7 separate regions of the Homo sapiens genome follow, and regions 2, 3, 4, 5, 6 and 7 are each linked to region 1. The links come from fine-mapping of genetic effects on plasma protein levels. Region 1 holds a variant in brackets. A gene starts in each other region. All regions are shown on their forward strands.

Region 1 (4,092 bases):
AGTCCTTTGTTGTCCCTGTCTTGTAATTAGTTAGGGTAGTATGTTGGTTATATTACGTGGAATTTATTGCAGGATGGTAAGGGAGCATGTGACAAAATGGGGCAATAGTTCTGTAAGGCTGAGAGAAGCTGGGGGTGTACCCAGTGGCTAGGCTACTCAGAGGGGACTGTCATGCTGTCAGTAGTGTAGTGGGAGCCAAGCAGGCTTTACTCACCGGCCTGTTAACAGCTGTGCGAGTCATGCCTTTCGCTTGTGTTAGCTCACCTTGTGAAAAAATGAGCTGAATTACAGATGACAACTAAGGCATGGAGAGCCGAACCCTTTGTCCAGGGTTGTATAGGAAGTGGCAGGGTCAGGGCTGAATCTTAAAACCTAGAGGGTAGGGCCCGGCGTGGTGGCTCATGCCTAAAATCCCAGCACTTTGGGAGGCCAAGGCAGGCGGATCACCTGATGTCAGAAGTTCGAGACCAACCTGGCCAACCAACATGGTGAAACCCCAGCTCTACTAAAAATACAAAAATTAGCTGGGTGTGGTGGCAGGTGCCTGTAATCCCAGCTACTGCGGAAGCTGAGGCAGGAGAATCGCTTGAACTCAGGAGGTGGAGGTTGCAGTGAGCCGAGATTGCGCCACTGCACTCCAGCATGGGCAACAGAGTGAGAATCTGTCTCAAAAAACAAAAACAAAAACAAAAAACCCTAGAGGATAAAAGAACTATAACATCTGGGATAAAGTTAGCTGTTGAAATAAATACAAGTCCTACCGTTGGGGTAGTGTCAGAGCTGGCCTACGTCTTTGACTTTGAGATTCCTAGCAGCCAGAGCAAAGAAAGAAATAGATTATTCCCACTGGAGCCACAGTGGCCATAACAAACAGAAGCCATCTGTTTAGATGCTGGGAATGGAGAAGACTTGCTCCCCAGAAATAGACGCTGCAGGATGTGGTGGGTGACAGTCTACTGTTCAAACCACAAATACCTGAAATGATCTGGCCACTTTGATCACCCAACCACAGTAGAGCCTAAGCAGGTCCAGGGAGCAGCTGTTGCTGGCCTGGCTTGACTTTTGAGGGAGGTGGAATAGCGGGCATGTGAGAGGAGGGAACCTAAAGCCCCCACAGCTGCTGACACAGCCCCCAGGTTTGAGCTTGTCTCCCCTCTCACCCATCCCCCCATATAGCTTAATCTGATGGGCATCTGGTGGTCCTTCCCTGCAGTGGCCAGAGCCTGAGCTGTCCAGGCTGAGGTTTCGACTGAAGCAGGGGTTGTCCTGCGCCCATGTGCCCACACGCTGCAACCTGGCTGGAGCCTCTGGCATAGGACACCCATACCACCAGGTAGCTGTGGCGGACCCCGGCTCTGATACTTGGCAGGCTTGGGTTGAGATTGTGGCTCTAGGCCTGGGCGGCTCTCAAGGGCTGCTGTGGGGAGTTGGGGAAGAACCCCTGGGTTGTGCTCAGCCAGCAGGCAGGTGGCAGCCAGGCTGGCTGTGGGTGAGGAGGGGAATCCTCTTTTCACCACTGCCTGCCTGCTCAGCAGTTCTTCAGCTGCTGGGGGTGGAGCTGGCTTGCAGGGGCCAGAGTCAGAGTGAAACCGGCAGCTCTGCTGGTTAATCTCAGCACTGACACTGGGGACTAGGCCTGGAGCGGAACTGAAAGGGAGACTAGGCCCGTTCCCCTCCAGGCCTGGCCTATATCCTCCCAGTGATCCTTAAGGCCTGCAGCTAGGGGGAAGGGTGGGGGCCAGGCAGGGCCAACTGGAAAAGTAGCAGAAGGAAGTGGCCACTCGCACCTTACCCATCTTGCAGACAGGAAATGAAGGCTCTGCAGGGCTGGCTGGCTGTAAAAATGGGCAAGAGCGCAGAGGCCCCACTCCCTGCACACTGCGCTGTGTCCAGTGCCCGTGTGGATGCCATGTGAGGCCTCACTCTGCCTGCCTCATCCTGGCTGCTGGACCTCTGGGAGTAGGAGGTGAAAATGCCCTGGCTGGTGCTGGTCACTTCAGGCTGGAATTTTCTAGTCATGCAGCTTTCTAGTGAGAGGCCGCAGTGAGCTGTGGCCAGTGTTGGTCATTCCTGCAGTCATTACTCTCCCCCAGCCTGTTGTGTCCGCCAACCAGAGCAGGCCCGGGAGCTCCCAGGAGACCTGCTGGAAGGGCCCAGGTGGCCATCCTGCTCCTGCCAGGCTGCCCTCTTACCTCACTGTTCATTGACTCTCCTGCAGGTGGGGAAGGGGGATAAAGGAGGTGGCCAGGCCACTGGGTCATGATCCTTCCGACAGAGGTACCTGGCAGCTCTGTGTGTAAAGCAAGGTTAAGCATCTGGTTTTGGGGGTCAATTCAACAGCACTAGCAGCTCCAGTCCAAGGTATGCCCTTTTGGGCTGAGGTGGAGGTCAGATCACCTGAAGCCACAGTTGCTAGAACATCCTTTGGGCTGCCTCTGCTTTCCATCCCCCTGCTCCCAGTTTGTTAGGGGTTGTAGTATTTTCCAGGAACACCTGAATGGAGGGGGCCCAGTGGGGCCACTTCTGTCCATTCCTTATCTCATCTCTTTCTCCCCTTTTCTTCTTTCGGCCATCTTTTCAGTCTTATCACAAGAGGAAGGGGAGGGGCAAACCCCCTCCTGAGCAGATTCCCAACCGGAAGCAGCTGGCTCCTTGGCTGCAGAGTGCCCCAGCACAGGAAGCATCTGCAGGGTCAGTTGAGACCTGGGAGCAGGTTTCCTGCTGGCAAAGGAACAGTGGCTAACTCCTATCCACCCTGCAGCCCTATGTGCCGGGTGTCCTGGGAAGGTCCAGGGCCAAGATTTTGTGGTTTTACAGTGGCTATAACTTAGGCTAGCCATGCTAGGCTCTGCCCCTTTGGGCTTGGTGTGATGAGACCGTCAGCAGCTGCTATCACCTGGCTGGGCAGGGAGCTGTTTGCTCACCAGTGGGAAGAGAAACGGATGTCAGACACATGGCAGAGTGGGAATGTCTCCAAGTCCAGGTCCAATGGGCTGGGAGGGCTGGCCTTCTGCCAGCACATGCTTCTTGGGATCTCAGTGTGAATGGTGTTCAGGAGGCTAGGGGAAGGCACCCTGGACCTCACTACAGGCTCAGAGCCTGCCCAGCAACACCATGGATACTCTCTCTAAAAGGGGGACTCCTGGGGAGACTATAGACAAACTCAGGCCTGGCTGGAAGAAAGAGCATCAGGAACAAGCCTTGAGTACCCCAACTTGGTCTCGTAGAGTTCAAGGCCCAAGCTACAAGCAGCTTGCTCCAGCATCCAGGAGGTCCGG[T/C]GGTGCACACGGCTTGAGATGCCTGACAACCTTTACACCTTTGTGCTGAAGGTGAGTGACAAGGCTTTTCACACCCTGGGGCAATACAAATACATACACATACAGCAGACCCAACCCTGTTCCCTTCCTCCCTGCCAGGTGAAGGACCGGACAGACATCATCTTTGAGGTGGGAGACGAGCAGCAGCTGAATTCATGGATGGCTGAGCTCTCGGAGTGCACAGGCCGAGGGTGAGGTCCTGGGCCCTCGTCCCTGGCACCACCTTTGCTGCTACCACCCCTGACCTGCCCAGATCCTTAACCTCAGCCTCTTCTCCAGCAGGCTGGAGAGCACAGAAGCAGAGATGCATATTCCCTCAGCCCTAGAGCCTAGCACGTCCAGCTCCCCAAGGGGCAGCACAGATTCCCTTAACCAAGGTGGGTAAACCAATAGCTAGGCCATTGTCTTCTGGGTACGCTGGAACCCAGACTCAGCCCAGGACATAAGGTAGCCCCCTGCGACCACCATCACCCATCTTATCTAACAGGTGCTTCTCCTGGGGGGCTGCTGGACCCGGCCTGCCAGAAGACGGACCATTTCCTGTCCTGCTACCCCTGGTTCCACGGCCCCATCTCCAGAGTGAAAGCAGCTCAGCTGGTTCAGCTGCAGGGCCCTGATGCTCATGGAGTGTTCCTGGTGCGGCAGAGCGAGACGCGGCGTGGGGAATACGTGCTCACTTTCAACTTTCAGGGGATAGCCAAGGTATGGGGTGGGGTGGGGTGGGGTGGGGCAGGCAGGACCGTGCCACCCCTCTCCACTGGAGTTCAGGGTCCTA
Region 2 (4,000 bases), not on the chromosome of region 1:
CCTAATTGCTTCAAAACATCTCAATGAATAAAAGTTGAAAAACATCAAATTAAGACTGGTGCTACTAATTTGGTTATGAAATATGTGCACTTTTGCCAGTATCCCATAGCGTATAATTTTTTTCATAGTACATTTTATGAATTACATTTAATGAATTGGTTATAAAACAAACCAAATGATGCATAAGAATGTCTCCCTACATATTGATGTGCTACATGATGTTTGGGGAAAGAAGTGTGTATTTGCATGAAAAAATGTTTGAGGAATGTTTTACGACACATAGATGCTTTTGACTTATAAGGGCTTGACTCCAGTAATAATGTCAATGTCTCCACCGTAACCACAGATAGTAATATAGCATAAAGATCAATACAGACAGATGACTTCTAGAGACAGAAATGTTCTCATAGTCACAACAGAATAGTTGTAAGCATCAAATCTAGAAGGTTCTCTAGCCTAGAAATGCATGAATGTATAATGCAACAAGTAAGAACGTGAAAGCACTTTGTAAACTCCGATGGTAACCAGCCTTTCTTAAGGTAGCTTTTCCTAGAAATCCATTTAATTGTTGGACTCCTTTGGGCAGTGGAATTCTGATTGTCATTCATTCAGGAAGACTGTATTTCTGTTTTTGGTCCTTTCACCCACCTTTCATCCTTCACATAACTGTACAAAAGTTGAAAGTCACAAAACCATAGAAAAGTCTCAGTTTCCTACTGTAGAATTCTTGTCATTTCAGTAGTCACAGTTAAACTTGTTCTAGGTTTTTCAGATGCTCTTTTCCAGGACTTCATATGTTTTGATATTTTTAAAAATTCTTTCTTTCAACTTTCTGGAATAAGAAAACAAGAGTTTTATTTACTTGGGCTGTTCTTGTTTCCCCCAGGACATCTAAAAACATGTAGTAAGAAGGGGAAGCTGTTACAACCAAGGACCCCTTAACAGAATATTTCACACAGGATCATAGCAGAATCTTTCTGTAGTTGTCCACATTATTTTCTTTTTCAAAAGATCTGTCTTGGATAAAACAGATTATAACATGGGAGTAATTTGGTAACTTACTTTGATTATAAGCCTTGCTTGCTTCGATTTGGGATTTAGGCATCGTTGTCCTTTATTTTCTTTCAGGGTAATACTGTTAAAAGAACATACAAGAGTCTTAAAGTTTAGATGCAAATACATAAACAAAAAAGCCTGCACCATTGTCATCTTCAGCAAGTTCATTACTTACATCACTTCTATTTTGTCACAGTTGTTACTTGGGTACATTATGGAGGCTTTCTCAATATCTGCCACTTTCACTGCTTTTACCCCAGGGCCTATGCAAAGACAGCGTCCTCTTTTGAACATGGGGAAGCCTAGAATAGATCATAGCATTAGTTAGTAATGCATCTGATTGCAACAGATGGCTGTGGTTTATAGCTGGTGGTGAACGTGAGCAGAATTTTCATTAAGGGTAAAGATAGTAATTTGTCAAATAGCACTTAACACAACTGTTACTGGGAAAAGTTAAGTAAGATGTTGATTATTTTCTCATTAAATTAGTAAGCAAATCGCTAACAAATGGGAAGCATGAAGGAAGTTTATTGGAGGTGAAGCTTGTTTTGCCCCCTTGATTTTATCCTCAAATATTTTCCCAGGAAGCTTGTTAACATGATCGCTATATAAAATCTTCTTAACAGACATTTAAAACTGTTGCTAAAGGCTTTTGCCAGATATTCTAGCCAAATCAAAAATTCCATGAAGTTCATAATTTCTAGTTTCAATAATCATCTCTAGTATCTTAAACATGTCCACCATTTCTGTGCTAAAGCTGTAGTAACTTCTAATCTGTGAGATTAAATAAAACTTTATCATGTCTTTTAGGATAAAAGTGGAAGAAAAGACATTTGAAACATTAGAAAAGGAACTTATAGGTTGAGAAATAAAAATTACTGCATACCTTGAACAACTGTAGCACACAATATCACAGCCAAGGCTATAGCCATGCCCTTCACACTCATGTTTGTTTTTTGCTGTTGCTGCTGGTGCTGCTGCTGCTACTTCAGCTTTGCTGCTCTTCTTGGAAGGAGTAGAAATGCTGAACATGAAAGGAAATTGATAATTGGCATATATAGAGCATTTTATACACCAGCAATCCTTTTATGGCACAGGAATTTCCCTCTTTGAGTCATGCACCTTTCCTGCTTCCAAGAGTTTCTGTTTTGTTCTCTTCTAAATGTTACTGTCCCTTCCTATTTGCAGTAGTGTTGAAAGTGATAAGAATGTGAAAGCACTGTGAAAACCCAGATGGTAACCAGCCTTCTTAAGGTAGCTTTTCCTAGAAATCCATTTAATTGTCGGACTACTTTGGGCAGCGGAATTCTGATTGTCATTCATTCAGGAAGACTGTGTTTCTGTTTTTGGTCCTTTCACCCACCCTTCATCCTTCACATATCTATACAAAATAATATTCTGAAAAGCTTTTTTTTATTATCTCACTTTTGCTTTTCAGTCCAAACTCTTATAATAGATAAGGCCTATATTATTTGACACCAGATGACCTTTATTCAATTTCATATTTTTACCTGTAAATGAGTGCCTAAAGAAGTTTCCCTGTGTTTCTGTATTTATGTCCATATTGTTTTGCATTTTCAACAATTTTTACTTTATATATTTTATTTTGTTTTGCTTTATTTTATTTTTAAATTTAATTTAATTTTATTACTTTATTTTATATTTATTTTATTCTGCAAAGCTTTCATTATAGGCAGATGGCAGGGGGCTCAGTCCTTCTTGGCAGCTGCTTTCCTCATGGCAGCCAGGACGTTGCTCAGCTCCTCCTGCCTTCTCTTGGTGCAGATGTTTGTCCCTACCCTTTTCTTGATGAATTTGAGGGCCTGTTTGACCTTGGAGACCTTCAGTAACTCCATGCCACGCCACTCGTTAGGGGTGAAGCCACACACCTCTGGGATCATGTCCCACACAAATTTAGTGAGTTTGGTCAGGCGCCCACAGTGGCTGTGCCTGGGCTTGCTCACATTCTTGGTCACCTTGTGGCCCTTGTTGAGGCCCACAGCTATAGGGTAGTGCAGTGTCATGGCTGCTGCCCTCCAATGGTGGCCATGGTGGAAAGCTACTTTATATATATTTTAGCACTGTTACTTAGTACATGAAGTTGTATGAGTTGTATTAGGGATCATAAAAAAAAGTGATCCTCTTTGCTCATGTGATAGTTTTACCTCTGAGATTCTACTTTGATGTAATTCCTATTTTTTTGTCTTTATCTTTTCCTCTTAAGCTTCCTAAATCTTTGTTTTAAGTGTGTCACTTGTAGATGTTTAAGAAAATCATATCAAAGGAGCTTTCTAATGGGTAAGCTTAATAAAATATATTTACTGTATAACTGGTAATCTGTAATTTTTAAAATGCTTCCTTGCTGATTCTTTATGTTTTCTTTGATTTCTTTCTAACTTTAAATATATTTTATTTAACTTTTTGAAGCCATTTTTGTTTTTTTTAATGAGATGGGTCTCACTCTGTCACCATTCTGGAGTCGAGTGGCACAATCATAGCTCACTGCAGCCATGAACTCCAGGCCTCAAGCAATCCTCCTGCCTTGGTCTCCCAAAGTGCTAGGATTACTGGGATGAGCCACGGTGCTTGGCCTTCCTTAAGTAATTTGAAAGGAATACATTGTTTTACATTTTGATATTAATTCTTAAAATTCTTTAAAAAGATTTTTACCTGAATTTTTCTAATTATTTACATCAACCATCAATAATATTTTTTTAGCTCCTGTCTTTGTAACATGAGAAAATCACTGTAACTTTCTTTCAAGAATTTTCTCCTATTTCCTAGTTTTACCAATAAAAGTTGGTATAATCGGGGAATTTATAGCCAGTTTATTACTTTTAGATTATTATTTTATCTTATTCAACTTCTTTTTTTGAGAATTATCATTTGCATTTTATCTTGAAATTATATATTTATTTAGATATAATCCTGCATTTAAATTCTT
Region 3 (4,092 bases), not on the chromosome of region 1:
CATTTATCTTATGTAACATGCAGAGCATATATCTATCTGTATTTTTAAAATTTTCCTGTTACTCATTGATACATAGTACTTAATTACATGTTATTCCATGTACACTGAAAACAATATAGGAAATATATACATCTAAGACTTCTACTTTGTACAGTCTTTCATTAAATAAGAATACTTACACATACATTTTCAGATATTTCTACCTTCCTGTATGTGTTTGGAATTGTATGTAGGTAGCCACTGAAAGAATTTGGGCCCCTTGGGAGGATGGCAGTGGAAGTCCATGAAGTAAAGAGCATTCTTTAAAAAGCAGATTTGATTGCATACCTTTTAGTTATTTGAGATTCTGAGAATTCTGATAAACCCCAAAGCAGAAAGATTCCTTAGTACCCTTGGAAGATGGGAAAGGTGAGGGAAATATTTGAAGCAGGGTCAGAACATCCACTAAGAACATAGCACCTCAGTAGAGCTTACATTATAGTGCCAGGGTAGAGTTATTACTGAATAGCTTAGGATGATGAACATTAACCTTCCTACAGGAGTAGTAGCAGCTGATTTGGTGACCATCATTGGTCACCTTTTAGTGTAACTGCAAACTAAGAACAATTATGGCTTGACATATACTCCATGTAGGGAAGTGATGGGAGAGGCAGCCTCTGTGTGGTCCATCCTTGGAAGCACTGCATCGATTTTGCTCCCCTCTGGTTTTAAGGAGATCTTTTAGACCTGTAAGAAGAGAAAGGGGATATAAAAGTGTGATAGTCTGACTCTGGCTTCAGATTGGGTTGTGTTTGGAAAGTACCGAGTTCATAGAATAGATAACTGAGCTTTCCTGCTGCTATGCATTCATTATGGATTATAGGGGTTGCTTTTTTCAACCATGAAAGACTTGGGGAAAATGTTGTCAGTTTTGCTTAGATAGTTATAGCTGTACTTCAAGGTTGACTGGTAATCAGGGTAACTTCTGATACTTATCACACAAGATGGTGCCTCAGCATTTAAATAAATGGAGGTAGGGGAGGGCGTGGTGGTAACATACTTTTAAACCAGCGATTGCACAGCAAACCACAATGCAAGTATTTCTGACTCCCAAGATTGCCGTTTCCTAAAGAGCAATTCTTCTGCAGGCAACAGCAAACCTACCTTTCCTTGCTAACTGCTTTCAGTAAATTCTTGATGGCCTTCGATTCTGGATTCAGACATCTCTTCTCACCCTTCTTTTTCATTGTAGCACTGTAGAAATAAATAGGGATGAAAATATTTAAAACTGTGTTGGGTCAATAAAACAGATGGCATACGCAGTTCTGAAGTCAGACATTTAAGTTTCACTCTGCATGTTTTTGTTTGCTGTACATTAGTTTTAGAATCATCACAAACCCTTTACTGATCTTTTTTTATTATCATTACATATTTAATACAGTATATAATTACAACCAGGGAAGTGATAATCAGATGGGATTTCACTCACATGATCTCAACACGTGGACAAAATTGGCTTGCAGGAATAATTTCAAGTTTTTCTAAAGACCTTGGATTAACAGGTTGATTACTAATGCTGATGCAGGTACAGCGTACAGTTCTAGAGAGAGGTACTCCTGTAGGAAAAGAGGAACAGCAGAGAAGGTTAGCACAGTGTTCATTTTAGGCATTTAATGTAGACTGGTGGTATTTAGCAGAACCTATATCCCCATATCAGCAAATAGTCACTTAATCTGAGGAGGAATGGATCACATCATAACACAACTGTAAATGATTAAAGAGTTGATTATCTGGAAGAAAAGAATTGCAGCTTGTTGATTATAAAGTCAAACCCTTAAGCACAGTTCATGTGGTTCATTGAGCTTAGTTAGGTAAGGAAGTATCTGTATCTCATCTCTGTCCGCATTCCCTCACATTTTCTCTCTCTATCCTCCCTCTTCCCCATCTCTTCTGTCCTCCTTCCCTTTTTCCTTCTCTTTCTCTTATTCTATTTGTTTCTCTCACTTCAATTCATATAAGTTTTATGATCTGAGGGAATCTCTATTTATTTCCCTCTTATTTATAAGCATGCAGTGAAACTTTTACAAATACATTATTTCTGTATTTTTAGAATTTATACCTATTCCTATTTCTCATTTTACAAATTAAGTATCCTTTGATGTTCCTTACCTTGAATGCCACTTAGAGTCAGAAAGATAAGGCAGCAAATCAGAATGGCAGTTTGATTCATGGTGCTGAGACTGGAGGTTCCTCTGCTGTAGGCTCAGAATATGTCTAAGCAATTGAGGAATGTCTCAGAAAACGTGGGGCTAGTGTGCCATATTTATCTGCAAAGCCATTTTCCCTCCCTAATTCTGATTGGATAAGGGCATTACAGTTGACTTAGCAAAACCTGCTGGCTGTTCCTGGGGAAGTCCCATGTTGCAGACTCGAAGGTATTATTTATTGTAGCCTCCAAGTTACGGAATTTCCCTCTGCTCCTCTTTTTTTGGTAATAGTGAATTAGGTTTCACTTTCCAAAACATGAACTGTTTCTTGAAAAAAAGAACTTCATTGCATATAGAAAAAAACAAAGGTTGCAATCCATTCTAACTATAATGCTTTTTCTCAACACTTAAACTTTTACAGTTACTTTCAGAGGTTATTTTTCAAAATATCCCCAGTAATAGAAATTTTTCATCCTTTATAGGTAAACCTAATTTTTTGGTAACAGCAAGTTGTGCCTGATTATTAGAACAGTGATTTACCTGGACAGTCCTCCTTGATCAAATACTATAAAGTAATAGGACTGGCCTGCTTTGACAGGGTCAAAGATCTGGAACTGGCAAGTTTTAAATAATTCAATAAATGCTTTGATCATTCATAACACCATTAGATTAAGTAAATAGCCTCCAACATAACTATTTTGAGGGAAAACATTGCTCATTTGGGTATCTGATTTGTGGTGTGTTAAAACAAGTTTCACGTCTTATAGCAGTCCCTGAATGAAAACATCATAAGATGGTATCTAGAATGGTGTGAGAAAAGGATTCATAGCTATCCTAGGGTTATTGTAAAAAACAAAGGGTGCTTTTTGAGGAAATGAATTTAAAAGCGGGGGGGCACGCATAGAGACAGACCTTGGGAAAGTAGCTTGAGACAGAAGGGAAACAGGTTGATTTACGATGGGGTTCAGCTCCAAGACACTGTTAAATGCAAAGAAAAAGAAAAAAAAAGTGTTGGCCATTGAGCTAGTAACAGTGATAACTGAAATTGGCACAATTTTAACTGGATGATGAATCGTGGCAAAACTTAATTTCACAGCATTCAATAGTACTTGACTGATTATTCATAGTAGCTAGCAGTAGAAAGCACATGATACTCATATAATGGAACACATGTTGAACCTGAGAGTGGAAATTTAGCAGTATCCATGGATATAGTGGTCCTTGGTTGTGTTCTTTGCAAATGATTAGTAACAGGGAATCCAAGATGAAATACTGTTTCAAAGGCAGGCACCACCCTGCAATGAGAGATCTGAGGCAAGTGATATTTAGAACCTAGGAAAATATATGGGAGTTCTTTTCATAGTCAGCTGGGCTGCAACAATGCAGGGATTGGTCAGGGAATGGAAAAGCTTCCATCCTAGGATCAGGCTACTGTACTAGGCAGATACTGTCTCAGAACCTGGTATCAGGGGCCAAGAATAAAGCCTGTATCTGCAAACTGGGTGCACATAAAACTTGGATCCTCAAATGTAGGAACTCCATCATTAAAGCAGAGAGTGAGTTGCTTGGGGTAAATGGAATTTGCTAGAGAGCTGAATCCCATGTTAATCTGTTCTAGGAACTGGAATAGAGCTAAGCTTTCAAGTGAATAAGTCAGTGGAATTAGCTGTGGGAAACCGGAAAGGCAAAAGAGAGGGAGGTGAGGTAGAGACTGACAGAACCCAAAAGACTTTCACCTAGCAAAGAGGCGTTCGTTCTGATGAGGGAAAGTCTTATGAGAAATAGTGACAATGGAGGGATCCTTCCATACCTATTTGTGCAGAACAAACATTTTACTGTGAATAGAATGCCAACAAATTTCAGAGAAATGTCTGACATCATGAATGGAAGAGGCCTAGAAAAGTTC
Region 4 (4,092 bases), not on the chromosome of region 1:
GCATGGTGGGGCAGGGAAGGTGCTGGGGGGACCACAGGCGGGACGTGCAGGGGCCCACTGGGTCACTGGTACTGGTTGGGGGAGGACAGCGTGTTGCAGCGGCTGTGCGACATGTCCTCGTACACCACACATGCCGCCGAATTCTTATCCCGCCACGAGCACAGTTTCTTTATCTGAAAGACAGAACCGCCGTCTCCAACCAGTGGCCAGCGTGGTGTCCTGGACCCCACCCCACTCCGGTCAGCTTTCTAATTTTAACACGAGACCCCCACGGGGCTCCTCTGGGCTGGCCCCCAGGTCTCCTGAGCCCCAGGGCTTCCCAGCAGAGCCTTCCCCAGGCAGGGCTGGGTCGGACCCTGGGGTGCCTCTGAAGAAGGAGAGTGGAAGTGGCTTGGACCCCCCCACCAAGCCCAAGCCAAGCGGGACCCCCACTCCAGCCCCAGACAAACAGCAGGGACCGAGGGGAGTGGCCACGCCTAGACTCTGTGTCTGTCTGAGGCCCCCTCCCCTTCCCACGGCCACACAGCACGCCGGCACACTCCAACATGCACGCACAGTCCTCAGAGATCCCCACACACAGGCTCACACCTGCACACGTGCACACGCGGGCCCAGCGCCTGGGCGCTCCCTCCTCTGCCCGCACACTCCAACCTGCACGCACAGACCTCAGAGATCCCCCCTCAGACACTCACACCTGCACACGCGCACACGCGCACACGCGGGCCCAGCGCCTGGGCTGCTCCCTCCCCCTCAGGTCGCTTTGGTGCTGGTCCCCCTCCCTCCCCGCCGAGGCCACTTCCACCCTGAGAGTTCCAGAGCCTGCAGAGGAGGCGGCGGGTACCAGGGTTTTCCTCTGGGGCTTTGGCGCCCCCCACGCTGCTCTCAGGAGAGGGAACAATCTTTGGGGTGCAGGTGGCAGCTGGGGCTCACACTGACCTGTGTCCTCGCCAGCACACACGCCACCCCCAGGCCCAGCCCGAGGAGGAAGGAGATCACCGCCAGGGCCGCAGGGAGGGCAGAGGCTGCTGGCGGGTCAGGGAGGGCAGAGGCTGTCTGCGGGTCAGGGAGGGCGGAGCCTGTCGGTGGGGCAGGGAGGGCAGAGGCCCTTGGTGGGGCGTCCGAGCATCTGTGCCATCCTTGGGACTGTTCCTCTGAGAAGGAAAAAAGAAGGAAGGGATTCTCCCGGTGGAGAACCTGTTAGAGCCCCCGGGGTTTGGGATTCGGGGCAGGGAAAGGCTGTGGAGGGGAGGAGGGGCAGCTATCTAGGAGGCTGCTGGGGGCAGTGGGCTGGGAGCTGGAACAGTTCAGGCACATGTAGGAGGGAGGGTCCCACGACAAGGGCTGGGGGAGCAGAGCCTGGCCAGCAGCTGGGGTTGGGAGGGGGGTCTGGGATGGGCACATTCCCTACCTGTCACCAGGACCAGGGTGCCGGAGCCGTAGACATTGACCTCCGTGATGGCCTGGCAGGTGTAGGTGCCAGTGTCCGACAGCTGCAGGCGGTGCATGGTGATAGTCAGGTTGTCCTGGGACCCTGAGAAGTCGATGCGGCCCCGGAACCGTCTGTCCGTAGTGGGCACCACCCCGTCCTCGTAGTAAATGATGTCTTGGGGCTGTGGCCCGAGCTGCCTCAGGTAGATCCCACGCAGGCCCCCGCTGGTGGAGCAGGTGATGTTGACGGAGGCTCCCACGGGGACAGTCGTGCAGTGGGGAGACTGCTGCACCTCTGGGGAGGACCTGGGCTGTCACCATCAGTCTGGCCAGAAGGACAGAGAATGTCCTCCCTGCAGGGGACAGTGGTGGGGATGGTGGGGCCCTGAGACAGCCCAGGGCTGACATGTCGCCAAAGACACGGTGCCTTACGGGGCATGGAGCAGATCTGGGCACCGGCTGTGGTGTTGGGGGAGGTGCTGTCCTCGTGTTCCGAGACTGTGGGCTTCTTCCTCCCAAAGCAGCGGCCCTGCCTGGACAGCCCCGGCCACTCCCCACCGGGGTCCACCCTTTTTCCTTCTCTTAAATGAGTCCTCAGACACTGGAGGCCGCTCAGCACCCCACCCGCTTCCTGGGGGCTGTGCTGTGGCTCAGACTGGGGGCTCTGAGCTCATGGGGCAGGGAGAGCTCTGGAGCTGTGGCCATGGAGAGCCTGGGAAGCTCTTACCTTGGGCAGCCAGGGCCCCAGGCAGGCCGCGAGCCAGCGCCAGAAGCAGGGGCAGCAGCAGGAGCCTCGGAGGCCCGGCCATGTTCCCCACACCCAGCTCTCCCAGCCGGGCGAGTGCAGCTGAGCCTCTCTGGGTCTACAGGACCCCACAGAGAGCAGCACACAGGAGACCGCAGGCGCTCAGAGCTCAGAGAGGGCTTCCTGGAGGCGGTGCCTCAGACCAGGGTGGTGCTGTGGGCCCGGTGGGAGGGGCGGTCTCACCTACCCCTCCCCAGCACTGCCTCCCTGAGAGCTGCCCTGAGAGCAGGGCGTCCCTGTATCCCCCACTGCCCCTGCATCTCCACAGGGAGGAGGTCAAGGCCTGGGGCGGGGCAGACCAGAGGACAGAGAAGGGACTCCCTGGCTGGGGACGGGTGGCAGGGTCTGGAAGTGAGCGGCAGAGCTGGCCCCCAGCCTGCCTGGTCCTCTGGGGTACTTTCTGCTGGGACCCAATTTATGCCCAGAAATCTGGAGCCACCCATGACCCATGAGTCACCCACACAGTGCAGAGGAGCACAGGGCAGGCCAGAATTGGCACCCCCTGGTTTGGCCGTGGGGAAGGAGCCTGGGCCTGCACCCGCACCCAACGCTGCAGCCGACCAGCTGACCGTGGCTCTGCGTTCCATGTCCTGGAGGCGGGAGGTCTGAGGTATGGTCCAGGCCTGAGGTTTCCCGACCTCCCTGGGAGGAGTGCGTCAGGCCGCAGTGCCCAGCTTCAGGGGCTGAGGGAGACCTGTGCCTGGGCTCTGACCCCAGGGTGACTGAGTCCTCTGGGAGGGGGCACTTCTCTGTCCTGAGGGCCTCCCGCCACAATGACGAAGCGTTGACGTTGGTGCCCAAAGCCAGTAGGTGCAGCACATGAGCAGGAGTGTGTGGACACGTGTGTGTGCAGAGACGGGTGCGTATGGACATGTGTGTGCAGAGACGGGTGCGTGTGGACACGTGTGTGTGCAGAGACGGGTGCGTGTGGACACGTGTGTGTGCAGAGACGGATGCGTGTGGACACGTGCGTGTGCAGAGGCGGGTGCGTGTGGACGTGTGTGTGCAGAGACGTGTGCGTGTGGACGTGCGTGTACAGAGACGGCTGTGTGTGGACACTTGTGTGTGCAGAGACGGGTGCGTGTGACTCCATGCGTGTGTGCAGAGACGGGTGCGTGTGGACACGTGTGTGCAGAGACGGGTGTGTGTGGACACGCATGTGCAGAGATGGGTGCGTGTGGACACGTGCGTGTGCAGAGACGTGTGCGTGTGGATGTGCGTGTGCAGAGACGGGTGTGTGTGGACACGTGTGTGCAGAGACGGGTGCACTTGACTCCATGCGTGTGTGCAGAGACGGGTGCGTGTGGACACGCGTGTGTGCAGAGACGGGTGTGTGTGGACACGCATGTGCAGAGACGGGTGCGTGTGAACACGTGTGTGTGCAGATGGGTGCGCATGACTCCACGCGTGTGTGCAGAGACGGATGTGTGTGGACACGCGTGTGTGCAGAGACGGGTGTGTGTGGACACGCATGTGCAGAGACGGGTGTGTGTGGACACTTTGTGCAGAGACGGGTGCGCGTGACTCCATGCGTGTGTGCAGAGACGGGTGCGTGTGGACACGCGGGTGTGCAGAGACGGGTGCGTGTGGACACGTGCGTGTGTAGAGACGTGTGCGTGTGGACGTGCGTGTGCAGAGACGGGTGTGTGGACACTTGTGTGTGCAGAGACGGGTGCGCGTGACTCCATGCATGTGTGCAGAGACGGGTGCATGTGGACACGCGTGTGTGCAGAGATGGATGTGTGTGGACACGCATGTGCAGAGACGGGTGCGTGTGGACACGTGTGTGTGCAGAGATGGGTGCGCATGACTCCACGCGTGTGTGCAGAGACGGGTGCGCGTGATTCCACGCATGTGTG
Region 5 (4,092 bases), not on the chromosome of region 1:
TTTTAGGGGCATGGCTATCACTTCAGTCTAGGTTATGACTGTAGCAAAGTACTAGCTGGCACAGGGCACCGGTTAGTACATTCACAGGCTTGAAGTTAAACAGACACAGGCTTGAATTTTGGTCCCACCGCTCATTTGCTGTTGAGCAGTGGGAGCAACTTGTTGGCCAAGTTACTCGCTGAGCCTCAGTCTCTTTGTCTATAAAATGGACCTAATACTTATCTCAAAGGCTTGTTGGGAAAGGCAATGAGATAACATATTATAGAAGGCAACCAATAACATATTAACTTGAACCTAGAGGAAGAGGTAAGGGAACAATTCGGTATCTGTGTTTTATATATCATGGATAGTCAAGAAAGTCATTCTAGGCAGTAGGGAAATGTGCACAGAGGTACTGCAATTACATGCGCCTGTAAAACCCAGAGGCTGGCACACTGGAAGGGAAATAGTGGAGATTCCTGGCATCTCCTGGCCACTTACGCTGAGGTATTCCCACTAGCTGTGTGCCCAGCACTTCCTCTGCATGCCTCAGATGCATTTGACAATCTCAGGTGAACTGCACTTCAGGGTCAAGGGAACCCCGGCCATGGTTCTAAGAAGCAACTCCCATTTTAGTATCACCTACATTTGAAACCACAGAGCACTGTCCAGGAGAGGTGATGGTGGTGGGTCTCCTCCTTTGGCTCTCTGGCCCATCAGCTGATACTAGGGAGCGCTATCCCTCAGCCCACATTTCTCAGCATGGTAAGTCTGAGAGTCTTGATGATTAAAACACATTTTTGTGTGTGCAATTTCATAGGTTTTCTAAACTCTTGAAACCCTTGCATGAAGGACAAAGGGACCCCACGTTACACACTCCTACTTCCTGGAGTATGCTAAGGGCTTCCCAACACTGGTGCCAACATCAGCATGCCAATGACGCTTGGGTGGGCATCTCTTTTTTAAGTTTTGTTTGTTACCTTTAATTAGAAAAGGGAGTTATTATTAAAGAATAAAAAGATATAGTCACAGATGGCATGGGTGGCACATGCAAAGATCCCTAGTTTGAGGGCCAGGCAGACTTCTAGAACTGTGTGACTCTGGGTGAGTCACTTGGCCCCTTTAAGCCCCACACTCCTGATCTATAAAATGGGCATGCTACTGTGGTAAGGAGTTAGTGACATAATTCACGTGAAGTGTCATGGTGCCTAGATGAAGTCAGGACCCACTATTTGCTCCCCTCCTTCCACAGCATTTACTACAATGGCAACAATACAGTCTCTTCTTTACTGTTTGTCTTCTCTGCCACACTGAGTGAACTCTCTTATGCCATGGATCATGTCTATCTTGTTTTGCACTTTACCCCCAGAGTCCAGCACAGAGGGATTCCATGACTTATTAGTAGCATGAAGGAATGTACGGAAATCATACAATTTCAGATTCCAGTAAACTAAACTCTAAGAGGTTACCCACATTCCATCTAGTATCTTGCAATTCCTTGTTTGAAAAAGTGGGTCATCACCTGGGGTTTAGTAATCCCTTTGTTAAAATGACATTGTTGTTGCACACAATTTTACCTGGGCAAGTAAAAAAACCTTTTTTTCCCCCTTCTCACAGATTTAAAAACTCTTTAGGAAGCAATAATAGCTTTTCATTTTTTAACTGGGGCCAAAGTTAGTTAATCCACAAGAATGGGGATCCCAGCTGTCATTTTGGTTGATATCACAACTGACGACCAAGACCATCACAAATATGGGAGCAAGTCTGATTTGTAACATTATTATAATTATGAATCCAATTACTTTAAGGAATGCACGAAAGGCTTTTTAAAAATTTCAATAGTAAGGCAGGCACCACTCACTTTAGCTCTATACAATCCTTTAACTGATGGGCATTAACATTTAGGAATATACTTTTATACATCAATACACACCACTTCAAAATAAGATAAAACAAACATTTCCACAAACTATGCATACACACAGATCTTGCTATACAGTTATTATTAGGTGGCTTTTAAAATGGACACTGTACATCGGTCCCTAGAGTACTAAGTTTTCACTAATGTTCCAGCAGATGACTCACCAGGGATGCTTCCAGGAATCCACCAACTCCCTCCTGCCAGCTGCTGGGGTAGCACACTAACGGTTTCTACACCTGGACAGCTGCAGGCCCACAGGGAGGGGAGGGAGGTAGGGGCTTGGGAAGTGCTTACCTTGCTCTGGGCAGGACGGAGAGTCCAATGGCCCTGAAACAGATGTTGTTTCTTCTGCTGCTGTTGCTGGTACTGGAACTTATATACTCTACTCCTTTCTGATGGAAACTTAAACTAGAAACTGACTTGTTGCAACATTGAAAACAACTCTCAAAACCTTCTGGGGGAATTTCAAGAAGTTCCTTTTTTGTTTGTCTCTCTCTGTGTGTGTATCAATAACGAGGAGGGAACATAGACATCAAAATCCCAGGTAATGAACTAAGAGGAAATGACTTTTGGGTGGGGAATAAGGAAGGAGATGGAGATGCTAATTTCTCTGGGTTTACATCATGGCCAAGGTGCTTGGAGACAGCACTAGGCAGATTCCCTGGGTTCCACAGATCGAGGAAGAAGGAAGGCCAAGGGGCGGTCAGACGGGAGGCTGAGTTCATGTCGGGATGGAACAACTGTATGCCCAAGGGCTTAAAAACAAAATCCTGGTTCTTCCCAAGTCAGAGAGGATGAGATGAAGGGCAAAGGGTTTAGTACATCTGGGGCGCCTTCCTCCACATTAGTCCTTTAATTTCAGAAACATACTATTTACCACCCATCTTGGCTCCATGCACCTCTCCCCACATTCCCCGAGTGGGAACACACGCGTGCACACACACACCCATGCACATTTCATACAGACACAGACCTGGGGAGATGATAAAACTGCGTGTACCACTAATAAGACTCAAATATGTGCACATCCTGTGCTCATAGGTACTCGCTCATAGGGGCGGATGGGAGCAGAAAGTGAAATACCCTCAGGGAGGCATACAGACAACCACACTCAAGGCACCCCCCCTTGGGCACCCAGACTACATCCTCATTTCATTTGCACACAAATCTATGGCCCTAGGGGCTCCGTGCAGATGCACAGGAATAGCGGAATAAAGATATCTCTCGTGGTGGAATTTCAAGTTGCTAAGAGGTATGCAAAGGTGTACACCGGTGTGGACCCCCCCATCCCCCGCCCAGTCTGCACGTGAACAGGAACATGTACCTGCACGTATACCAGGTACACGCAGACAGATGCGGGCCATCCCCAGAGCCGCCGACAGAGGTCGCTGCGAGACGGTACCCGCGCCCCACAGTCCACCCGCTCCTCGGAGTCCCCCCGCGCCCCGGAGTCCACCCGCGCCCCGGAGTCCACCCGCGCAGGTCCACTTCTCCATCCCTGCTCTCGACCTCCGCCCCTGCGGTGGGGGAAGTTCCTGGGGCGGTGGCTGGGACCAGGCCGGGTTTTAGGCGGGCGCAGATTTCCGGGCTAACTTTCCTCGCCGTCTCAGCGCGGGAAGGGGGAAATGGGAAACCCGGGCCAGAGCAGCGGAGCTTCCCAGCCGCACACTTCCTCCCTCCAGCCGTTTGTCTCGGCAGGGGAGGGCCCAGGCAGCCAAGCCGGCAGGCCCACTGGTTATCCGACCTTGTGCTCTGGCCGTGGGTGGAGACCTTACATCCAGCTCAGAGCGCCTCCTCCCATCCCCTGTGTCCTCTAGGCCTCCCCAGACTTTGCCTTTTAGCCTTCCAGTGAAACAAGTTCTGTATCCAAGATATACAATTAAGTGGACAAAGCAGATTGCAGGTATGTTTTTTCGTATGATACCATTTGTGGGGTGTGTGTGCGTATGTGTGTAAGTGCACCTGCACTTTTCACAACTGGTATCTCTGAGGCATATGTAACAACTGGGGGAGGGGCTTTTTGTAAACATGTATTAATTTCCTCCGATCCATCACTAAAGTGTACTGAACAGAAATTGACGTGAAGTAGTTTCACTAATTTATTTACAGTGGCTGCACCACCACAGATGAGTCCTTGTGCCCCCCCATAAATAAATACATGCATAAAATAAGACAAGTAAGGTTCAAAATGA
Region 6 (4,092 bases), not on the chromosome of region 1:
CTCCTGGGTTCAAGCAATTCTTGTGCTACAGCCTCCTGAGTAGCTGGGACTACAGGCATGTGCCACCTCACCTGGCTAATTTTTGTATTTTTAATAGAGACAGGGTTTCACTGTGTTAGCCAGGCTAGTCTTGAACTCCTGGCCTCAAGCCATCAGACTGCCTTAGCTTCCCAAAGTGCTGAGCCTTAATCTACTGTTTAATCTGTACACTGGGCTTCTATTTTCAAAAATTATGTTTTTACATAACTGCTTGCTTTTTTTCCCTCAATCTTCCTGGTCACTTTAAATAGTCTCTTGTTCCTTATCTATACTTTCAATTACCAACTTTTAATTCTTGAAGCATATGAAACATCCTTATTTTATATTATATATACTGCAATTCCAACATCTGAGATGTGTTCGAAGGTCTGCATTTTTAGTTTATTGCTTGGTGCTCCTCTCACCTAAAGCACCTTGTGTCCTGTGTTTTATGATTTTTCTGTTTTACAAACATGTGAACTCATGTTCCATGGGAGTTTTTCTGTGGGATTTCTTTGAGTCATGAATATAGGATGAGTTACTCCAGAGACAATTTTTATCATTTGTTTCTGCCACGTGCCTAAGGAGCTATTATTTACCTTACTTTAAATTCTTATCTTATCTTTTTGTTTGTTTGTTTTTTGTGTGGTTGTTTTTGCCACAAAGTCACCATGAGTTTCACCTCCAGGCCTATTAGTGGGTAGACTTGTGGTGAGGGGCATTCAGGGTTGACATTTATTTTTCTCCCACTCAGAGTCCATACTGAGTTGGGCAAGCTCTGTGTCAGCTCGCTTTAAGGAATTTTTCTCTCCGAGTTCTCCACTGTGGATGTTGTATTTCAGTGCTCTTTGTTTAAGGCAGAAATTTTGGATTTTGTTTTTCACTTCGATTTTGTTTCTCAGCTTTAACTTTTGTCCATGTTCATAAGACTGAAGCTCTTGGTCAACTGGATCAACAGATACTTCTCTGCTGGCTGTGATCTCTTTGGATTTTTGTTGTCTTTATATATTAACATATACAAGGTCTCACTCTGTTGCCCAGGCTGGAGTACAGCAGTGCAATCTTGGCTTATTAAAGCCTTGACCTCCTGGGCTCAAGCGATCCTCCCACCTCAGCCTCCTGAGTAGCTGAGACCGCAGGTGTGTGCCACCAAACCTGGCTAATTTTTTGCACCTTTTGCAGAGAGAGGGTTTCACCATGTTGCCCAGGCTTATTGTCGTTTTTGATCTCTGATGATTTTCTTCATTTCTCACCACCTCAGCTACACATTTTAAAAGATGGTTTACAATATTTTTGTGGTGTTTTGTATTAGGAGAATTCTTCAGCATCTGCTGTCTACCATATTGTCAGAAATGGAGTCTAGCCATCCTTCCCGGCCCATTTCAAACGGGTTCCTCTTAGGACCAGGAGACCTCACATTATGTGTGTCCTACCTTGGCCTGTGGTTTGGTCACTTGTGTGTGTGTGAACTTCATCCTCCTTGAGGGCAGGAATATGGTTTCCTCTCTTTCACTTCCACAGAGTCCTGTCCAGAGTTCTGCACACCAAGACTGTGTAAATGAATGGAATTGCATCTGGGAGCTCGAGGCACCCATGCAAACCTGTGCTGCCAGTGACTTCCACCAGAGGGCAGCGGCAGCAGGTGCCGGCGCTGGGGCAGGACTGGGAGGAGTCTCACTCTGGGGGCGCCTGGTTCCCCGTGGCTCTAATACTTGCCGCATCAAATGCATACACCCACATTTAGGACCGAACCCAATGGAGGAGGACCGCTCCTCATTCCACATGTTGGGGAAATGAAGACAAGCAAGGATGCAGGAAGTGGAGGGCCAGGAGAGGTGGACCTGGGATGGGACCAATTGAGGCAGGGCCAGGATTTGGAACCAAACCCCTTCTGGATTTGACCACTTCCAGGGCCCTGCTTGGACAACCAAATTATCTATTCCTTTTCTCATTCAATAAACATTTATTCACCTCCTACCATATGCTCCACAGGGAGTACCATGGGAATTAAACACGCTTGGCCCCTGCCTTCTTCCTATAGCGTCAGTCTGCTGCAGTGCAATGGGGCAACTCGGGGTTTCTCAGGCAGCCCTGGGCTTCCTTCCTTCAGCCCTTTGCTCCTGCTATTCCTTCTGGCCCAGAGGCCTCCCATGATTGCTGTTTGTCAAAATCCTGCTCAGCCTTGTAGACCCAGCTCCCATGCCTGACTCCCACGGAGGCATGCCCAGTCTGGTACCTGGAGATGGGATAGCTGGCCCCACTGTGCCATCTGACGGGGCGGCTCCCACAAGGCCTTGGCACCCTTCCCTGTAGAAGGACTTGTGGGATGGCCATCTCTCAGGCCCTTCCCAATTTATATTTCTCTGAGGGGAGACTTAGGCTCTTATCTCCAAAAGTGCATCAAGACCACACCCTCCTTCCCAACCACCATTGCACCTAAGGTTAAGATAAAACTCAGGATTTAATCCAAGAGAGCCAAATTACACGGACCGGGACAGGCAATGGGTCATTCACTCCCTCTTCCAATATGTACTGATTGAGCAGCTACTACATTATCAATTTTTTCTTCTGGGCCACCAGAAATGAGGCATGGCTCTTCCACTTCCCTTCTTCTTAGAAGACCCTCGGGGAAGTGTGTCTGCATGGATGCGTGTGCATGCGTGTGTCTGGCTCCGTGACTCTTGGGGTGCAGCCTGGATGGGTGGGCTCCCAGCACAGGCAGCTGGGGCTCTCCCCACCAGCCCCTGTAACAGCAGCCCAGCTTCCTGCAGACCAAAACCACAAGCAGAACAAGCAGGCGTGAGACACTCACAGGTTGGGTTTGATCGCATGCGTGTCGGAGAGGAGAGAGCAGAGAGAGACACAGGAACAAGAACAGCAAAGGGTAGAGCAGACCTGCGCCAGGGGCGCACAACGGCCGTGTCCACCTCCCGGCCCCAAGATGGTGCTTCCCACAGGCAGCCACGCGTAGCAGCCAGAGACAGCTCCAGACATGTGGCTCTTCTTCGGGATCACTGGATTGCTGACGGCAGCCCTCTCAGGTAGGCCCCCTTCCCTCATCTCCTGCCACTGGTGCTGGAGGAGCCGGGTCCGGCCCTCTCAGTCCCCTTTCTGGTTGTTTCCTTGTGGTCACTTTTCTAGGATCTTTTAGCCAAGACTACACTCAGGTACCAGGGAGGTCCAGCATCTGGGGCTAGGAGAGGACACAGGAGCCCCTCGAGGGGCTGGGGCTGTGCCTGGAAGCCTCCTGGAGTGACAGAATGTGGGAAGCATGCTTTGTGCCTTACCAATGGGTCCCTAGGGTGTGAGGAGGGAGGTGCCTCTCCCATCCTTAAGCTCAGGAACTCCCCCATTTCCTATTTCTTGCCAACTCTTAAGAAGGAACCGTTCACCTTCCAGAGAGGCAGGACCACTGATGGTGGTACTTTCAACGCCAAAGCTGAGGCTTGGGGTCCAGCAGGCGTAGGCCAATCACAGGAGAGCACCTCCCGAAACAGGACTCAGGGAAGCCAGGGAGAGTTCTGGACAACCAGGCGCTGATGGCCTCAGCACAACCAGCTGGGGTAGTCTAGGGCATAAGCGAGCATGAAGGCCACCCCCACGTCTCAAGCTGCCCCCAAGTGTCAAGGCACCTGGCCACCTGGGCCAGGGAATCAGATGGCCAGAAGGTTTGGGGCACTAGACTGTGCTCCCCAGATACTTGCTGGCCCCTGTTGAGTGCAGGGTCCAAGCTGGCCAGAGCGGGGCAGGGGCCTGGAGATGCAAGAGATCCTGACCCCATCGAGCTCTCACATTTTGGGATTTGGGAAGACTGGTATGGAAACAGAATTCGGGCCAGGGGAGTCTGGGTCCACCTTGCAGCCAGAGAGCCAAGTGCTTTCATTTTGTGATGGAGGAGACCCAGGAAGACCCAGTCAGGAGGGGGCATCGAGCTGGTTTGGAGGACTGGGTACATGTCGCGAGACTCTGGGCAGGGAGTGCTCTCCTCTCTGCCTTGATCTCCAGGCATGTGTTCCGAGCCTGTGGCCTCATACTGGTTCAGGGAAAGCCATTCGGCTCTGGGAACTGGAGTTT
Region 7 (4,000 bases), not on the chromosome of region 1:
GCATTATCTTGTAAACGGAATATTCTTATACCCTGTAACTCACAGTTCCATTCTTAGATGTATGCCCTAGAAACGCTGTCACACTAAGAACCAGACATGTCTTTGTGTTTACTTCTCTTTTTTTTTTTTTTTTTTTTTTTTTTGAGACGGGGTCTCGTTGTGTCGCCCAGGCTGGAGTGCAGTGGCGCGATCTTGGCTTACTGCAACCTCCACCTCCCGGGTTCGAGCTATTCTCCTGCCTCAGTCTCCCGAATAGCTGAAACTACAGGCGTACGCCACCACACCCAGCTAATTTTTGTATTTTTAGTAGAGATGGGGTTTCATCTTGTTGGCCAGGACCGTCTCTATCTCTTGACCTCATGATCCTCCTGCCTTGGCCTCCCAAAGTGCTGGGATTACAGGCATGAGCCACTGCTCCCGGCCTTACTTCTCACTATCTGTGTGACCTTGAGCAAATCACTTAATCTTTCTGTGCCTCAATTTCCTCATCTGCAAAAAGGAATCAATAATAGTATCTTCCTCATAGGGTTTTTGTGCAGATTAAACAAATAAAATAAGTAAATATTTTAAAGCATTTAGAACAGTGCCTAGCACACAGTAACGCTATATAACTGTTTCATAAAATAAAAATAAATAGGCATAGCCAGGTGCAGCAGTTCAAGACTGTAGTCCCAACTAATCAGGAGGCTGAGGTGGGAAGATCACTGGATCCCAGGAGTTCGAGGTTGTAGTGTGCTATGATCATGCCTGTGAATAGCCACTGCACTCCAGCCTGGGAAATATAGTGTGACCCCATCTCAGTAAATAAATAAATAAATAAATAAATAGAGATGCATATGTAATAAAGCACTTAAAAATAAGAGAACAATAAACACAAAATTCCAGAGGGTGGCTACCTGTGGGTGGGAGGCAAGTAGCATAAAAGTGGACAAGTGGTGGCCAGGTGTGGTGGCTCACGCCTGTAATCCCAGCATTTTGGGAGGCCGAGGTGGGCGGATCATGAGGTCAAGAGATCGAGACTCTCCTGGCCAACATAGTGAAACCCTGTCGCTACCAAAAACACAAAAATTAGCTGGGCATGGTGGCATGCGCACCTGTAGTCCCAGCTACTTGGGAGGCTGAGACAAGAGAATCGCTTGAACCCAGCAGGCGAAGGTTGTGGTGAGCCAAGATTGTGCCACTGCACTCCAGCCTGGGCGACAAGAATGAAAACTCTGTCTCAAAAAAAAAAAAAAAAAAAAAAAGCAGATAAGTGGTGTTTGCAGTTTGGTGATACTCCATCCTTGTGCTGAGTGGCAGCTTCAGGTGTGTTTGGTATATTACTGTGCAGTATGATGTATATGTATGTTACATAAGCTTTTTATGCGTTACCTAGTAAATTTTACAAAAATAATAAAAGGGAAAAAGGGCCTTTCTACGTGCCTAGAAAGAAGAGGCTTCATGGGAATGTGAGCCATGGGTTAGGAAAGACCCCCTCGAACCGAGGCAGGTAGGAAGTGAGTGACTGAGATTCATTATGAACCCACCACGCCTGCCGGGGAGAACAGGGACTGTCCCTTCCCCTCTGCATCAGCTCAGATGGTCCAGATCACAGCCCACGTGGGCCCCTAAATAAGGAGGCAGCCCCACATTTCTACATCGGCCACCGAGATGGCAGAGCAGAGGAAGGAGAGAGGGGAGACAAATCAGGAAAGGAGCGCCAGGGCAAGTGCGTGAGCTCAGAGACCCAGCAGGGCAGGGCAGGAGCTTCACAGAGTGCAGAATGTCGAGCCACAGGAGCGCTGGGGATTCCCCAACCCCTGCACTTACCAGCGAGAAACTGAGACCCAGAGAGGGGAACGGACTAAAACTCAGACCTCGACACTGCCAAAATCCTTCCCATGCTGCCACGCTTCATTGGAGGGAAAGTGAGAAGCTCAACCTTACCCCTGTGGGCTCCAAGAAGGGTAGCTCTGGGATCCCGGGCAGGAAATTGGTGACAAGGTGACAAGGTGCGCGTGTCACAGCTGCCCAGTTCACGGCTTATTCAGTCTTCTCCCTCCCCCCACTCCCCACCAGAAGTGACGTGCTTCCTGTGCCCCGGTTCCCACCCTAAACTAGCCTCATTTAGCTCCACTCCCATTCCGCTTTTTTTTTTTTTAATTGTGGTAAAACGTACACAACAGAATTTACCATTTCAATTTTTTTTTTTTTTTTAGACTGAGTCTCAGTCACCCAGGCTGGAGTGCAGTGGTGTGATCTCGGCTCACTGCAACCTCTGCCTCCCGAGTTCACGTGATTCTTGTGCCTCAGCCCGCAGAGTAACCGGGACCACAGGCACCTGCCACCACGCCTGGCTAATTTTTGTATTTTTAGTAGAGACAGGGTTTCACCATGTTGGCCAGGCTGGTCTCGAACTCCTGACCTCAAGTGAACTGCCTTCCTCGGCCTCCTAAAGTGCTAGGATTACAGGCAAGAGCCACTGCGTCCAGCCAATTTTTTGTTGTGTTGTTTTTAAGACAGAGTCTTGCTTTTGTCACCTAGGCTGGAGTGCAGTGGCACAATCACAGTTCGTGGCAACCTCTGACCCCTGAGCTCAAGTGACCCTCCCTCCTCAACTTCCCAAGTGACTGGGACTACAAGTGTGCAGCCACCAGGCTTGGCTAATTTCTGTAGTTTTTGTAGAGACAGAGTGTTGCTTATGTTGCCCAGCCTGGTCTCAAACTCTTGAGCTCAAGCAATCCTCCCACCTCAGCCTCCCAAATGCTGGGAATGAGCCACCGTGCTAGGCCCATTTTAATTATGTTTAAGTGTACAGTTTGGGGCACTAAGTACATTCACATTGTTCTGCAACCATCACCACCATCCATCTCTGGAGCTCTCTCTTTCTCTTTTCTTTCTTTTTTTTTTTTTGAGATGGAGTTTCGCTCTGTTGCCCAGGCTGGAGTGCAGTGGTGTGATCTTGGCTCACTGTAACCTCTGCCTCCCAGGTTCAAACGATTCTCTTGCCTCAGTGTTTTTGTTGTTGTTGTTGTTGTTTGTTTGTTTGTTTGTTTTGTAGAGATGGAGCCTCACTCTGTCGCCCAGGCTGGAGTGCTGGAGTGCAGTGGTGTGATCTCGGCTCACTGCAACCTCCGCCTCCCGAGTTCAAGCAATTCTCCTGCCTCAGCCTCCTGAGTAGCTGGGACTACAGGTGCACGCCACCACGCCTGGTTAATTTCTTTTGTATTTTAGCAGAGATGGGGTTTCACCATGTTGCCTAGGCTGGTCTCAAACTCTTGAGCTCAGGCAATCCGCCCGCCTTGGCCTCCCAAAGTGTTGGGATTACAGGCATGAGCCACCGTGCCTGGCCTTGCCTCAGCCTCTTGAGTAGCTGGGATTACAGGCACGTGCCGACTGGCTAATTTTTGTATTTTTAGTAGAGATGGGGTTTCATCATGTCGGCCAGGCTGGTCTCGAACTCCTGACCTCAAATGATCCGCCCACCTCAGCCTCCCAAAGTGCTGGTATTACAGGCATGAACCACCACGCTTGGCCAGAACTGCCTTCCTTTTGAAGGCTGAGCAATATCCTATTGTGCGTGTGTGCCGCATTCTGTTCATGCATTCATATACTGATGGACACCTGTGTTGCTTCCACCTTTGGCTATTGTGAATAGTGCTGCTACAAACAGGGTTGTACAAATACCTGCTCAAGACTCTGCTTTCAGTTCTCTGGGGTATGTACCCAGAAGTGGAAATGCTGGATCATAATGGTAAAATATACACAACAAAATCTACCATCTTAACCTTTTTTCTTTTTTTTTTTTAGTGGTAATTCTGACTGGGCTTGGTGGCTCACACTTGTAAATCCGGCACTTTGGGAGGCTGAGGTGGGAGGATTGCTTGAGTCTAGGACTTCAAGACCAGCCTGGGTGACAAAGTGAGACCCCATCGCTACAAAAAAAAAAAAAAGTAATTTTGTTTAATTTTTGAAGATTTGCCATCCTGTTTTCCTTACTCCTCCCTTTGATGTGCAGTTT

Direction of the effects. Alleles are on the strand shown, and positions count from the first base shown. The strength of an association depends on the size of the effect and on how common the allele is.
For the plasma level of the protein whose gene starts at base 2,086 in region 2, allele T in region 1 goes with a higher level than allele C (moderate association).
As copies of T replace C in region 1, the plasma level of the protein whose gene starts at base 2,275 in region 3 goes up (moderate association).
As copies of C replace T in region 1, the plasma level of the protein whose gene starts at base 2,350 in region 4 goes down (moderate association).
For the plasma level of the protein whose gene starts at base 2,250 in region 5, allele C in region 1 goes with a lower level than allele T (moderate association).
With allele T in place of C in region 1, the plasma level of the protein whose gene starts at base 2,825 in region 6 is higher (moderate association).
In carriers of allele C in region 1, the plasma level of the protein whose gene starts at base 2,037 in region 7 tends to be lower than with T alone (moderate association).

Evidence for each region. A credible set is the group of variants that fine-mapping cannot tell apart. PIP is the chance, under the fine-mapping model, that this variant and not a neighbour inherited with it causes the effect. The UK Biobank Pharma Proteomics Project read protein levels with antibody pairs (Olink). The fine-mapping took linkage between variants from a reference panel, not from the people measured, so its PIPs are less certain.
Region 2: CXCL11 starts here. The variant in region 1 is the best candidate, but not a certain one, in a credible set for the plasma level of the CXCL11 protein (UK Biobank, PIP 0.85).
Region 3: it holds the start of CXCL10, and the variant in region 1 is the best candidate, but not a certain one, in a credible set for the plasma level of the CXCL10 protein (UK Biobank, PIP 0.61).
Region 4: CD7 starts here. The variant in region 1 is the best candidate, but not a certain one, in a credible set for the plasma level of the CD7 protein (UK Biobank, PIP 0.77).
Region 5: IL12B starts here. The variant in region 1 is the best candidate, but not a certain one, in a credible set for the plasma level of the IL12B protein (UK Biobank, PIP 0.73).
Region 6: CD6 starts here. The variant in region 1 is the best candidate, but not a certain one, in a credible set for the plasma level of the CD6 protein (UK Biobank, PIP 0.87).
Region 7: it holds the start of ICAM2, and the variant in region 1 is the best candidate, but not a certain one, in a credible set for the plasma level of the ICAM2 protein (UK Biobank, PIP 0.52).

What each region holds. Positions count from the first base shown.
Region 1 is chr12:111,443,526-111,447,617 of GRCh38, forward strand. It overlaps SH2B3 (SH2B adaptor protein 3), which reads left to right. Exons shown (of 8, transcript NM_005475.3): 3 at 3,228-3,329; 4 at 3,417-3,508; 5 at 3,600-3,694; 6 at 3,805-4,019. It overlaps LOC124903019 (a long non-coding RNA gene), which reads right to left and starts at 1,220. Exons shown (of 2, transcript XR_007063462.1): 1 at 1-1,220. RefSeq lists enhancers at 740-859, 1,610-1,879. The variant T/C (reference allele first, on the strand shown) is at 3,279.
Region 2 is chr4:76,033,985-76,037,984 of GRCh38, forward strand. CXCL11 (C-X-C motif chemokine ligand 11) reads right to left here and starts at 2,086. Exons shown (of 4, transcript NM_005409.5): 1 at 1,943-2,086; 2 at 1,232-1,358; 3 at 1,063-1,135; 4 at 1-832. The coding sequence starts at 2,003. The coding sequence ends at 809. It also overlaps a transcript of ART3 not described here and the pseudogene RPL36P8.
Region 3 is chr4:76,021,223-76,025,314 of GRCh38, forward strand. It overlaps CXCL10 (C-X-C motif chemokine ligand 10), which reads right to left and starts at 2,275. Exons shown (of 4, transcript NM_001565.4): 1 at 2,149-2,275; 2 at 1,469-1,595; 3 at 1,144-1,233; 4 at 1-726. The coding sequence starts at 2,209. The coding sequence ends at 708. It also overlaps a transcript of ART3 not described here.
Region 4 is chr17:82,315,259-82,319,350 of GRCh38, forward strand. CD7 (CD7 molecule) reads right to left here and starts at 2,350. Exons shown (of 4, transcript NM_006137.7): 1 at 2,156-2,350; 2 at 1,409-1,723; 3 at 937-1,151; 4 at 1-173. The coding sequence starts at 2,237. The coding sequence ends at 63.
Region 5 is chr5:159,328,238-159,332,329 of GRCh38, forward strand. It overlaps IL12B (interleukin 12B), which reads right to left and starts at 2,250. Exons shown (of 8, transcript NM_002187.3): 1 at 2,195-2,250. IL12B-AS1 (IL12B antisense RNA 1) reads left to right here and starts at 3,281. Exons shown (of 5, transcript NR_037889.1): 1 at 3,281-3,803.
Region 6 is chr11:60,968,856-60,972,947 of GRCh38, forward strand. It overlaps CD6 (CD6 molecule), which reads left to right and starts at 2,825. Exons shown (of 13, transcript NM_006725.5): 1 at 2,825-3,059. The coding sequence starts at 3,011.
Region 7 is chr17:64,018,597-64,022,596 of GRCh38, forward strand. ICAM2 (intercellular adhesion molecule 2) reads right to left here and starts at 2,037. Exons shown (of 5, transcript NM_001099789.2): 1 at 1,927-2,037. RefSeq lists enhancers at 1,657-1,776, 1,871-2,371, 2,117-2,206, 2,427-2,476.